2 separate regions of the Homo sapiens genome follow, and region 1 is linked to region 2. A link means that fine-mapping ties the variant in region 2 to the expression of a gene that starts in the linked region. Tissue or cell type: whole blood. Region 2 holds a variant in brackets; the other region holds the start of a gene. All regions are shown on one strand. Distances are between the middles of the regions.

Region 1 (6,881 bases), 62 kb before region 2:
TTATCTTCAGAATCCTGCCCCTCATTCCCCTCTCCCCTAGGGCCGCCTCCTACCTGTGCTAGCCTGGCTCAGGGCTTTGAGCAATCCCTCCAGAGATGAGTGGCTTTTGAAGAGTCTCTGGAGCAGCTGGTAGAGATCTGGATCCCTCTAGGGAAGAAACAAAGAGGGGTGAGGCAGGAGGCTCCCACCCGGATCCACTCATCCTTTTCCCACAAGAAACAGCCTCTTCCTGAGCCCATCCTGAATCCGACACCCTATTTCTTTCAGAGTTTCCTCTGGTTCACACTGGACGAGAAGTAGGTGCTCCAGGAGTGACCTGTGGACCAACAGCAACACCAGCACTACACAGAGCCTGTTAGAAATGCAGACTCTTGTTCCTACCCCAGACCTCCTGAGACAGAATCTGCATTTTAAGCAGCCCCCCAGGTGATTCACATGCATGGTGAGATTGGAGGCACACATCTGCACCTGTGATTCCCCCACTCTGCACGATGTCCATGGATGTTTCTCTCCCTGTTTTCCACCACCTCTTTCTCTATTCTCCATGGCTTTCCGCCTCTAGTTTTCTCTCCCTCTCCCTTTTGGCCCTAGGTCTAGAATTCCAGGAAGGCAACATGCTCAGAAGGCACGTCTTCTTCTCTCCACAACTGAATCCCAAGTTCTAGAGCTGTTGCCCAGCACGGGCTCTTGATTGTCCCTGTGATTTTTTTTTTTTTTTTAGCAACTTGCGTACAGCAGGGTGGTGGGCACACACCACACAGCCAGTTAATTGCAGCTGCAGAGAGACAATAACAATGATCATGGCTGGAGATTTTCATCTCAAATCTCAAGTCTCAGCAGCGCCTCTCTTTCCAGAACCCAGGCATCCTTCGGCTGTTGTGCACACACAGAAGTGCATTTACACAGAACACACCCCCACACATACCAACCCAGTTGCCTAGGCACACCTATGTACTACCCTCTTCCTGCCCCAATTTCCCTCATCCTCACAGACTCTCAAGGAGAAGGGGTAGGATGGCAATCCCTCTCATTCATTGACCAAGAGGGGCAGAGGGGACATCTCATTGGCCAAGGTCTTGAAACAAGTTTGTCTCAGAAGAACTCAGATACTCTAACTATCCTGGGCTGGAACTTTGTGGCTCCAAACGGTGTCCAGCCCATACTTGGCACTCCCCTGGGTGTTTTTTTTTTTAACGGTTCTGGCCTTTTGGATATGGCACAACTGCTGCCACCTGCAAGGCTGCCCTGGTGATAACTCCCTTGGCCCAGCATGTGGTGTTCAGGCAGCCACTTTTCCCAAATTGTTGAATACTCTGCCCACCTCCTATAATGAGATGCTGAACAGATTTGAGCTGAAGAGGCAGTTAAACTTCACACATTGAATTTGTAATAAGTCCCACCCGCAATCATCTTAAAAGCATTTGTACCGATGTAATTGCTGTCATTTCAAAACCTTGAAAAGACTTCCTCCCTATCCTCCCCCTGTACCCCTACCCTGACAATTCCTATTCTTTTTCGTAAAGGAACTGTGGAAATCGAGGCTCAATCTGGTTTTTTTGCTGTTGTTGTTTTCCTATCCTGACTAAGCAGAGGATAGAGGCGGGCAAGGGAGAAAAGAGAAGAAGGAAGGGGTTGGGATCTTAGAAGCACCTGAGGTTACTGGGGGTGGATGAGCAAAAGATAAGGGAATTTATTTGCATTTTGAAAATAAAACAATACACATAACTGATAGGTAAAATAGCACACAAATAACCATTTGGGAAAGAAATTCTGACTGTTTCATACCATCCAGGAAATAGAAGAGATCTGTCCCTTGCAAAGGGACCTGAGGTAGACTATAGAGAGCCTTAGACCACCCTAGCTCACCCCTCACAGTACCATCCAATCACCAAGTCTCCCATCAATCAACCCACCAAACAACATATTTGTAGGGCACCTTTTATGTACAAGGTGTCAAAGACATGCAGAGATACAGAGACACAAACACACCTGGAGACAGTGGGAACATGAAAGGACCAGAGAAACAAAGAAATCCAAAGGGAGGCAAAATGCCCTCTGACGGACAACCCCCCCACCCCAGTTTCCTCACTACAGCTGTCCAGACAGGCAGAGTCCCAAGTTCCCGTGATGTCCCCAGTACTCTGCCAGGGGAGACTTACCTTGCTGCGGCCCCCGCCAGGAACCACCTCCTCCTGTGGCTCCTTACAGACAGCCCCAAAGCTCTGAGCTAGGCTGAAGGCCAGGATGGCTGTGAATAGCAGCATGATCCTCATGGTGCCTGGGAGAGCAAAGGGACAGGACTCAGGTAAAGGAGAGAAGAGGAAGATACAGCATGGGTGAAGACACAAGAGACATTCATTACCAGCAGCTTGGCTTGACCCTGCTTCCCCAGCCCCCAACTCCACTGTCCAAGCCCTGGTCTGGAGAGAGGGTGGAAAGTATTTCTGAGAAGGGGGTACAGCCCTTGGGCTTAGTTTCCCTGCTACCCCATCAGATATCTCCCCAGGAGATGTGCAATGCTATAGTGGTGCCAGGAGGACTCTAGCTCCCAAGAAAGATGATAGATTTGTAGGACATGGACTGGTCTGTTTCCTCAGTCAGCTGGAGGAGGGATCCTGGATGCTATTTTCCAGTACTAGATAATCCCAAGACTTAGGCAAAAACTTTCTGGTATGAAAGAATGAGTCTGTAGCCACAGGCTCCAAACACCAACCAGCTCTCGGCCCTACAGGTGCTTTGTGCTCACCTTCCCAGTCCCCTGCTCCCCTATCAGAGGCTGCCATCTGCTTTATTCCCTCCTGACGCTGGCTCCTGTCCCCTGGTGCCAGCTCTGGTCCATCCAGCATTCTCCCACTTGCCTACCTGTGGAGCAGCTCTGTGCCGGGGGCTGGGTGGTCTGGCAGGATCAAGGAACTGGCTAGGACCGCTGCCTGCTCCCCTCACACACTGGTGCTGCCGGTGCTCCTGCAAAGAGAGAAACCGAGTGGAGGGGATCTAGGAAGGCTGCAGTCACTCAGTCCCAGCTCCCTGATAAAGGCTCTGGGAGGGTCTAGGGGAGCTGAGGGGAGGGGCTGAGAGTCACCAATCCCAGGGTGGCTGGAGGGGAGGCGGGGAGGCTGTAGGGGGGAGGAGGATGCAGACAGTAGCCACACACCCAGACACACACATACCCCACAGACCCAGCAGTGAGACCATTTCCTAACAGCACCCGAGCTGGCTGCTGTGTATGGTTTGTGTACAGTTTGACACTGCTGGGGCTTAGAGGACAATACTCCAAAATGAAGGCCTCAATAGCCGCCTCAGAAGCAGAAGTTTTTCTCTGACCCTCTCTTGTCCTCTTGTCACTCGGTTCCATTCTCCCCCAAGACCAGCTATAAAAACCAGAACCCCTTTGCCCCAAAGCCAGCCATAAAACCTAAAATTACTCTATGTAAAAACTGGCCAAAAAAATTATCTGACCGGCCGAGTGCAGTGGCTCACGCTTGTAATCCCAGCACTTTGGGAGGCCGAGGCGGGCGGATCACGAGGTCAAGAGATCGAGACCATCCTGGCCAACATGGTGAAACGCTGTCTCTACTAAAAATACAAAAATTAGCTGGTCATGGTGGCGCGTGCCTGTAATCCTAGCTACTCGGGAGGCTGAGCCGAGATTGCACCACTGCACTCCAGCCTGGTGGCAGAGCAAGACTCCATCTAAAAAAAAAAAAAAATTCAGAAAAGATGACACTCACCCCTTTTTTGGGGTCTCCTACTTTCGTTGTGGAGTTTCACGAGTCATGGGCAGATTCTTCTCAGGTCTAAAGCTCTGCTCTCTTCTACACTACATTACCTAATCTCTTTGGTTTTTGAGGATGCCAAAAATAAATTACTTTGTATTATTTAAAAAACTAGACATATAGCTAGTCATATATAATAACTAGATAAAAAATACAGTTTTAGAGATGACTTATGACAGTTATTCACAACAAAGTATTACTACTATACAGGGCTACTTATTTCTTCGTGCATTTAAATTTTTAAAAACATGGTCTGGGGCACCTAAAGACAATGAAAGCACTCACCATTGAGGATGAAACTCCCATTAAAAATAGGCTAAGCACGCCAGGCATGGTGGCTCACGCCTGTAATCCCAGCACTTTGGGAGGCCGAGGCGGGCGGATCACTTGGGGTCAGAAGTTCGAGACCAGCCTGGCCAACATGTTGAAACCCCATCTCTACTAAAAATACAAAAAATTAGCTGAGCATAGTGGCTGGTGCCTGTAATCTCAGCTACTTGGGAGGCTGAGGCAGGAGAATCGCTTGAACCCACGAGACAGAGATTGCATTGAGCCGAGATCACGCCATTGCACTCCAGCCTGGGCAACAGAGCAAGACTCCACCTCAAAAAAAAAAAAAAAAAAAAGACTAAGCACAGAGTGGGCTAATCGGCACTGGGCTGCCTGCCAGCCTTGGGGGAGCATCTTTACAGTGGGGCACTCGATAAAAATGCCACACATCTCGTCCCATGACATTTCCCTCTTTTGGGGGGCCTAGGATTCAATATAAAAATGAGATCCTTGATTAGGGGGGTTCTGTATTCTGCCTTCCAGCTATGCCTGCTTTACCCATTTAAATATGAGGCCCTAAAACCTATGTTTTCTTCCCCCTTTTTATTAAAGGGCTCCACCCTAAAGGCAATAATCTAATTAAAAAACAAGCTAGTTAAAAAGCCCAAAATACAACTTCCTAAAAAAAAAAAAAAAAAAAAAAGGCCGGGCACAGTGGCTCACGCCTGTAATCCTAGCACTTTGGGAGGCCGAGGCAGGTGGATCACAAGGTCAGGAATTTGAGACCAGCCTGACCAACAAGGTGAAACCCTGTCTGTACTAAAAATACAAAAATTAGCTGGGCGTGGTGGCACACCCCTGTAATCCCAGCTACTCAGGAGGCTAAGGCAGGAGAATGGCTTGAACCCAGGGGGCGGAGGTTTCAGTGAGCCAAGGTCACGCCACTGCACTCCAGCCTGTTGACAGAGAGACTCCAGCTCAAAAAAAAAAAAAAAAAAAAAAAAAAAAATCTGACCTACGTTATTTGACTTAGGTCATAAAACCTCCATTCCAGAGAGGGTCCTGCCCCACACCAGAAGGAAGGAATGAGAGAGGCTAGGAGGAATCTCAACAGACAGGCCTTGCTGGGTTTCCCCACTCAGTCTGTTAACATTAGATCGTGCCCTTTCTGTCCAGTCATATTTCTACACAGCTGTCCATACTTTGTTAAACCTAAACATAAAAATAGACAATTTCCCCTATAGCTTCAAGGCTTCATTCTAAAGGCTCCCATTCGTATTTAATAAATTTGTATGCCTTTTTCCCTATTAATCTGCTTCATGTCAGTGATTTTCACTGAAACTTTAGGGGGCCAAGACCACAGTTTGGCATCACAAATAAGACCACCAAAGCTATTGTGCTTTTCTGGAAGCCACAGAGAAGGAAATACAGGAACCTGGCAAGCCAGCAGAGGAGTGAGAATTTCCTGCCAGACTCCCAGTTTTCCAGTTTTCCTCTCTCTGTGGACTCTGGATGAGTGGACAGTAAAAATCATTGTTTCCCTTTTCCTTTCCAAATGTAAGATTAATGAGAGAACAGGTTTTGTGTGTGACTAACCTTGGTATAGTGAGTCTGATATATTTTTTAGTACTTTGTGGTATAAGTATTCATAGTTTGACCCCATTCCCTTCAGAAATAGCTTTTGTTGTTGTTGTTGCCATTTTCCTTTCAGAAATAGCTTTTTTGTTGTTGCCGTTTTCCTTCGTTTTTGTCTTGTCTTTTGGTGTTCTGTCATAAGGAGGGGTACCCTAGGGTAGAACAGGCCTGCAACCCACTGTTTGAACTGGCCCTGCAAACTGGTCAGTTTCGTGGTTCTGGTTATGCTGACTTCTGTTATGACAAACTTTGCTGCCAGTCCCTGAAATAAAAACAGGGTGAGAGGTTTCCCTCTTGTCTCATGTCCTTGAGAGCATGACGTGACTAGATGGGGATATTCCCGCTTGGTCTCCACCATCCAAAGGATGTGATTTTTCAGGTAACATCACAGCCAGTATGAAAAGATTGGGAGCCCAACACATGTATTTTCAAACATTCCAAGCTCCTAGGGGAGTTTTGTCTTACAAGGTCTCATCCCTCCTGGGCTTCTGTTTTCTTTGACATAAAGAAAACTTTGGATTAAGTTGCTATTGGAATTAAATACCCCATTAAAAATTCTAATTGTCAATGGCCAAAAGATAAATCCTTTAGACTAAAATTCCTAAATTTAAAAAAATTACTTGTTCTAAAGAATTGATAGATCAAATTAAAAGGACACATAATAGTGTCACAGCTATCCTTAACAATTGTCTTGATTAAATTAAAGCACAAAAACCTGACCTAAAACAATTACACTCAAACTGCCACTTTGGATTCCATACAAAATTAACAATGGAGGCTGCTCCATTTTACAGTTTAATAATTAAAATTCCCACCGTGGCTTAGGGTTTCCTTCCTAATCAGAAATCAGTCCTTTTCGGCTTAATATTTATGTGACTTTTAAAATATCAGCATTTGTCCCAACTAAAATCTGGTAACAAGAGATTTAAGGTGAGTCGCAGTGGCTCACACCTGTAATCCTATCACTTGGGAGGCCGAGACAGGCAGATCACTTTAGCCCAGAAGTTGCCCGGACTTGAGACCAGCCTGGGTAACAGGGCGAAACCCCATCTCTACAAAAAGTTTTAAAGGAGGAGAGAGACAAATTTAAAAGAATTTTTGTTAAAGAGCTCCATGGTTAGAAGTCAGCTTAATTAAAAGCTAATATTCAAGCTATGTGTATATTTTTAAAGCCTTCTGTGTTTTCTCTTTAAATCCTAT
Region 2 (6,881 bases):
TAAATAAATAGTTGGGAGCCAAGATCACACCACTGCACTCCGGCCTGGGCGACAGAGCAAGACTCCATCTCAATATCAATAAATAAATAAATAAATAAATAAATAAATAAATAGTTGGGCCCAGGCGTGGTGGCTCACGCCTGTAGTCCCAGGACTTTGGGAAGCCAAGGTGAGGGGATTGCCTGACCTCAGGAGTTTGAGACCAGCCTGGCCAACATGATGAAACCCCATCTCTACAAAAAAAAAAAGAAAAAAAAATAAGGCCAGGCACGGTGGCTCACACCTGTAATCCCAGCACTTTGGGAGGCTGAGGCGGGCAGATCATTTGAGGTCAGGAGTTTGAGACCAGCCTGGCCAACATGGCGAAATCCCACTCTACTAAAAATACAAAAAAATTACCCGGGCATGGTGGCACACACCTGTAATCCCAGCACTTTGGGAGGCTGAGGCGGGCAGATCACTTGAGGTCAGGAGTTTGAGACCAGCCTGGCCAACATGGCGAAATCCCACTCTACTAAAAATACAAAAAAATTACCCGGGCATGGTGGCACACACCTGTAATCCCAGCTACTCGGGAGGGTGAGGTAGGAGAATCGCTTGAACCTAGGTGGCCGAGATGGCACCACTGCACTCCAGCCTGGGCAACAGAGCAAGACTCCATCTCAAAAAAATAAATAAATAAATAAATAAAAATGTATACACAAAGATGTTCACAAACTTACAACAATGAAAAACTAGAAATACCACAAATATCCAACCAACAGTACAAACCACCAATATCCAACCAAATGTTTAATCCACAACATTAATAATGATTTTTACCAGGCAGATGGCACGTGCCTGTAGTCCCAGCTACTTGGGGAGACCGAGGTGGGAAGTTACAGTGAGCTATGATTGTGCACTGCACTCTAGCCTGGGTGTCACAGCAAAACCACGTCACTAAAAAATAATAAATGAAGGCCAGGCATGGTGGCTCACGCCTGTAATCCCAGTACTTTGGTAGGCTGAGGCGGGCGGAACACCTGAGGTCAGGAGTTCGAGACCAACCTAGCCAACATGGTGAAACCCCATCTCTACTAAAAATACAAAATTAGCTGAGTGTGGCTGGGCGTGGTGGCTCACGCCTGTAATCCCAGCACTTTGGGAGGCTGAGGTGGGCAGATCACGAGGTCAGGAGTTTGAGACCAGCCTGGCCAGCCTGGTGAAACCCCGTCTGTACAAAAAATACAAAAAGTTAGCCAGGCATGGTGGCATGCGCCTATAATCCCAGCTACTCGGGAGGCAGAGGGAGAAGTGCTTGAACTCTGGAGGCTGAGGTTGCAGTGAGCCTAGATAGTGCCATTGCACTCCAGCCTAGGCAACGAGGGCGAAACTCTGTCTCAAAAAAAAAAAAATTAGCCGAGTGTGGTGGCACATGCCTGTAGTCCCAGCTACTTGGGAGGCTGAGATGGGAGAATGGCTTGAAACAGGAACCGAGATTGCACCACTGCACTCCAGCCTGGGCCAGACAGCAAGACTACATTCTGCGGGGCGGGGCGGGCGGGGGGTGGAGAAAAAAAATTAAATGAACATCTGCACATACATTGGAATGTAATACAAGTAAGACAACATTTACAAAGAATTTTAAGGCCGGGTGTGGAGGCTCATGCCTGTAATCCCAGCACTTTGGGAGGCCGAGGCGGGCGGATCACGAGGTCAGGAGATCAAGACCATCCTGGCTAACACGGTGAAACCCCCTCTCTACTAAAAATACAAAAAATTAGCCGGGCGTGGTGGTGGGCGCCTGTAGTCCCAGCTACTCGGGAGGCTGAGGCAGGAGAATGGCGTGAACCTGGGAGGCGGAGCTTGCAGTGAGCCGAGATCTGGCCACTGCACTCCAGCCTGCGCGAAAGAGGGAGACTCTGTTTAAAAAAAAAAAAAAAAAATTAGCCGGGCGTGGTGGCGGGCAAGTGTAATCCCAGCTACTCAGGAGGCTGAGGCAGGAGAATCATTTAAACCCAGGAGGCGGAGGTTGCAGTGAGCTGAGATTGCACCACTGCACTCCAGCCTGGGCAACAAGAGCAAAACTCCATCTCAAACAAACAAACAAACAAAAAAACAAAAAAAGAATTTTAAATTACTTGGGAAAATTATTGTACTACAAAATCAAACGAGAAAACTATCTCTGGTAACGACTGGCAGCCTCCAGGGAAGAGAACTAGAGTACTAACTGGATACAAATTATCAATTCATAAAAAATTAAAAATATGTGGAAAAAGATCAGAAGAAAGTGTGCTAAAATAGATTGCTTCTGAATGGATTAACAGTGTGGTTTCTGCCTGCTTCTTTATACTTAATTGTACCTTGCCAAATCATCTAAAATAAACATGCATTATTTGGCCGGTCACGGTGGCTCACACCTGTAATCCCAGCACTTTGGGAGGGCCAAGGCGGATGGATCACGAGGTCAGGAGTTCGAGACCACCCTGGCCAACATAGTGAAACCCCATTTCTACTAAAAATACAAAAATTAGCCGGGCGCGGTGGCGGGTGCCTGTAATCCCAGCTACTCCGGAGGCTGAAGCAGGAGAATTGCTTGAACCCAGGAGGCGGAGGTTGCAGTGAGCGAGATCGCACCACTGCACTCCAGCCTGAGTGACAGAGCTAGACTCCATCTCGCGGGCCGGGGGCGGTAAGGAATCAAGGTTTTACAAGAGCAGAAGATAGTAGAGATCACTGCATTTCTGTCAACTACATCCGTTCTGCCACCCGTGCCCTGCGTCCTGACAGAGCATACGCTCAGATGGTGTTTGCTGATTTGCCGAATGAATGAGATGGTCCCTTTCCCGCGGCTGCTCTGCCTGCCCAGAATGGTCCCCAGGTTTTCTCGCTTTTAACCAAGAAACTCAAGGCTTCTGCAACGAGACACAGCCCCCAGGACTGCTTCTCAACCAGTCTAGGCCTCCCTTCCTGTCTCCGCCAAAAGGCTTCAGGCTCCTCCCCACTCTGGAAGCTGCCCCAGCCCGCTTCAGGGCCCAGACCCTCAGTCCCGACGCCCACTAGCCTGCCAAGTTTCTTCCACCACACTACGCCGGCGGCCCTCGGTAGAGCCACCGCCCTTCTGCAGAGTAACGGCCCGCGCCCTCGGGACAATCCCTTTTCCAAAAATAACCCCCTCGGCACCTGCCCCCTTGGCAGCTGCTGCCCGGGCGGTACCTGTGCCGTAGACCAAGCAGCCGGAGAGGATCAAGAGTAGCCGCACTGTCCCACCGCCCCCGACTCCCGAGCCCCAGGGCCCGGGACCAACTGCCGGCGAGACCGCCACTTTCATTCCTCCCGCCATGGTTGCCTCAAGCCA[C/T]CTCCTCCTCACGTGCCTTACCCCAGCAACTAACTCCGAACGGGCAACGACAGCAGCCTATCCTCTACGAAACCCGCCCCTATCAACCAATGGGATGGGCAGGGCTTCGAGCACCCAGCCCTCCAAGGGCCCTATGAGTCCCGCCCCTTAGCAACTGAAGAGAGAGGGCGGGAAAAGCAGCTTTCAGCCTATTGGAAAATGGGTTCTCACCCTAGCAGTGGCGACAGGAAGATCCCACCCCGCTAACAACATGCTTCCGTCTTCAGTTTATTTACAACTGGTGTGATTGATGGTAAGTTTAACCAATAGAAAATCGGAATGGGAGAGGCCTCCTTGACCAAACTCGGTATTTCCATAGAAGCTGTCTGAAGTTCCTTCCGTTTTCTTTCGGTTACTTTTTATCACGACCTTTCTGTTATGAGACGCCTACAATTGAGATCGCTTTATGAGTAGGACCCTGATAGGACGATTTTTAAAGTCGACTGACAAAAGTGTGGTTCTCCAAAGTCCTAAAGGATTTAAAATAGAAGTCACAAAAAAGTGTGTGTCAATATTTTATAAGCATAAACATTAGCTTTTAAAAATGTATTCATAGGATTTTTATTTTTGGAAGTAAAATTAATGTTAGGATTAAGAAAGATTCATTTATTCCTCTTATCATCTTGTGAGACAAATATAATTCTCTCCATTTAAGAAGCCAAAGCCAAGACAGCCACAGGAACCTGCCCAAGATTTCATAGTTCATCTGGTCTGTGATCCCAACCTAAATCCTACTGACTCCAAAGCCGGAGTTATTTATATGGATTAGCTGCTTCCCATTCAATGATTTAACACAGGGCCCAGCAGAGATCCAGGTGTTCAGAAACTGTTAGTAGAAATTGAAACTTTTTTTTTAAGAGGATCTGATGGTGATGGGTAGGAAAACTACAGATGATAGAGCCAAATGAATTGAGGAATTCAAGGAAGGGGGCATCTCCTGGGGAAGGTTCAAGCTTTCAAAACAAGAATTTTTTTTTTTAATGTTTTTAGAGACAGGGTCATTCTCTGACACCCAAGCTGGAGTGCAACAGCACCATCACAGCTCAGTGTAACCTTGAATTCCTGGACTTAAACCATCTTCCCACCTCAGCTTCCTAGATAGGTTGGGCTACAGGGATGCACCACCATGCCCAGCTATTTGTTTGTTTCATTGTTGTTGTTGTTGTTGTTGTTGTTATTGAGACAAGGTCTCCTTCTGTAACCCTTCTGGAATGCAGTGGTGTAACCACAGCTCACTGCAGCCTCGAACTCCCAGGATCAAATGATCCTCCCACTTCAATCTCCCAAGTAGCTGGGACTACAGGCATGAGCCACTATGTCTGGCTTAATTTTTTTTAATTACTTTTTGTAGAGACAATATCTTGCTATGTTGCCCAGGCTGACCTCAAACTCCTGGCCTCAAGTGATTATCCCACCTTGGCCTCCCAAATTACTGAAATTACAGGAGTAAGCTACTGCACCTGGTCTAAAACAAGGACCTTTTTAAAAGTCAAAATGGGCCGGGCATGGTGGCTCAGGTCTGTAATCCTAACACTTTGGGAGTCCGAGGCGGGTGGATCAACTGAGGTCAGGAGTTCGAGACCAGCCTGGCCAACATGGCAAAACCCCGTCTCTACTAAAAATACAAAAATTAGCCAGGCATGGTGGTAGGTGGCTGTAAGCCCAGCTACTCAGGAGGCTGAGGCAGGAGAATCCCTTGAACCCAGGAGGCGGAGGCTGCAGTGAGCCAAGATCGCCCCATTGCACTCCAGACTGGGTGACAGAGCAAGACTCTGTCTCAAAAGAGAAAAAAAAAAAAAGTCAAAATGGGCTGGGCATGGTGGCTCATGCCTGTAATCCCAGCACTTTTGGGAGGTTGAGGTGGGAGGATCACTTGAGGCCAGAAGTTCGAGACCAGCCTGGCCAACACAGCAAAACCCTATCTCTAATAAAAATACAAAAATTAGCCCAGCATGGTGGCAGGTTCCTGTAATCCCAGCTACTTAGGAGTCTGAGACAGAAGAATTGCTTGAGCCCAGGAGGCAGAGGTTGCAGTGAGCCGAGATCATGCCACTTCACTCCAGCCTGGGTGACAGAGCGAGCCTCTCTTGTCTCAAAAAAAAAAAAAAAAAGTCAAAATGGGGCTGAGCTATGGGCAAGAGAAGAGATTTCATTCTCAGAAGGAAAAGTCTAGGCCAACAGTGCTGATATGGTCATCCTGTATTTCACACACACACTCCCTCAGCTGACCTAGGGAAGTCAGCATCAATCATGTTGATACTATGTACCCTTGATAACATGAGATGAAAATGGCATTTTAACTCTGTGGTTTTCCTTCCCAAAACCCATAACACCACTCTAATCTTGAGAAAAACATTAGACAAATTCCAATAGAGGCATCCTACAAAATACCTGACCAGTACTCCTCAAAGCTGTCAAAGTCATCCAAACATCATTATGGGCTTTTTTGTTTTTGTTTTTTGAGACAGAGTTTCACTCTTGTTGAGCAGGCTGGAGTGCAATGGCACAAACTTGGCTCACCGCAACCTCCCCCTCCCAGGTTCAAGCGATTCTCCTGCCTCAGCCTCCCAAGTAGCTGGGATTACAGGTGTGTGCCACCCCGCCCAGCTAATTTCATATTTTTAGTAGAGATGGGGTTTCTCCATGTTGGTCAAGCTGGTCTTGAACTCCCGACCTCAGGTGATTTGCCCGCCTCGGCCTCCCGAAGTGCTGGGATTACAGGCATGAGCCACCATGCCCAGCCCATTATGTTTTTGAGAACTAAACATAATGTGGTGGTCTAGATGGGATCCTGGAACAGAAAAACACATTAGTTTAAAAAAACGAGGCTGGGCACGGTGGCTCATGCCTGTAATCCCAGCACTTTGGGAGGCTGAGGCGGGCGGATCATGAGGTCAGGAGATGGAGACCATCCTGGCTAACATGGTGAAACCCCGTCTCTACTAAAAATAAAAAAAATTAGTCGGGCGTGGTGGCAGGTACCTGTAGTCCCAGCTACTCAGGAGGCTGAGGCAGGAGAGTGGTGTGAACCTGGGAGGCGGAACTTGCAGTGAGCTGAGATCGCTCCACTGCACTCCAGCCTGGGCGACAGAGCAAGACTCCGTCTCAAAAAATAAGAAAACAAAAAAAAACACGGAGGCTGAGCATGGTGGCTCACGCCTGTAATCCCAGCACTTTGGGAGGCCAAGGCGGGCGAATCACGAGATCAGGAGTTCAAGACCAGCCTGGCCACCATAGTGAAACCCCGTCTCTACTAAAAATACAAAAATTAGCTGGGCGTATGGCGGGCACCTGTAAACCCAGCTACTCAGGAGGCTGAGGCAGGAGAATCACTTGAACCTGGGAGGCGGAGGTTGCAGCAGTGAGCCAAGATCAGTGCCACTGCACTCCAGCCCGGTGACAGAGTAAGACTCAGTCTAAACAACAACAACAACAACAAAAACTCAAAGGAAATCTGAATAAACTGTAGACTTTAGTTAATAATAATGTTTCAATACTGTTTCAT

Evidence for each region. PIP is the estimated chance that this variant, and not a neighbour inherited with it, causes the effect.
Region 1: TAC3 starts here. The variant in region 2 is the best candidate, but not a certain one, in a credible set for the expression of TAC3 in whole blood (TOPMed, PIP 0.50).

What each region holds. Positions count from the first base shown.
Region 1 is chr12:57,013,525-57,020,405 of GRCh38, forward strand. TAC3 (tachykinin precursor 3) reads right to left here and starts at 3,005. Exons shown (of 7, transcript NM_013251.4): 1 at 2,863-3,005; 2 at 2,160-2,278; 3 at 54-147. The coding sequence starts at 2,273.
Region 2 is chr12:57,075,424-57,082,304 of GRCh38, forward strand. It overlaps NEMP1 (nuclear envelope integral membrane protein 1), which reads right to left and starts at 3,368. Exons shown (of 9, transcript NM_001130963.2): 1 at 3,196-3,368. The coding sequence starts at 3,322. RefSeq lists enhancers at 2,923-3,172, 3,293-3,342. The variant C/T (reference allele first, on the strand shown) is at 3,338.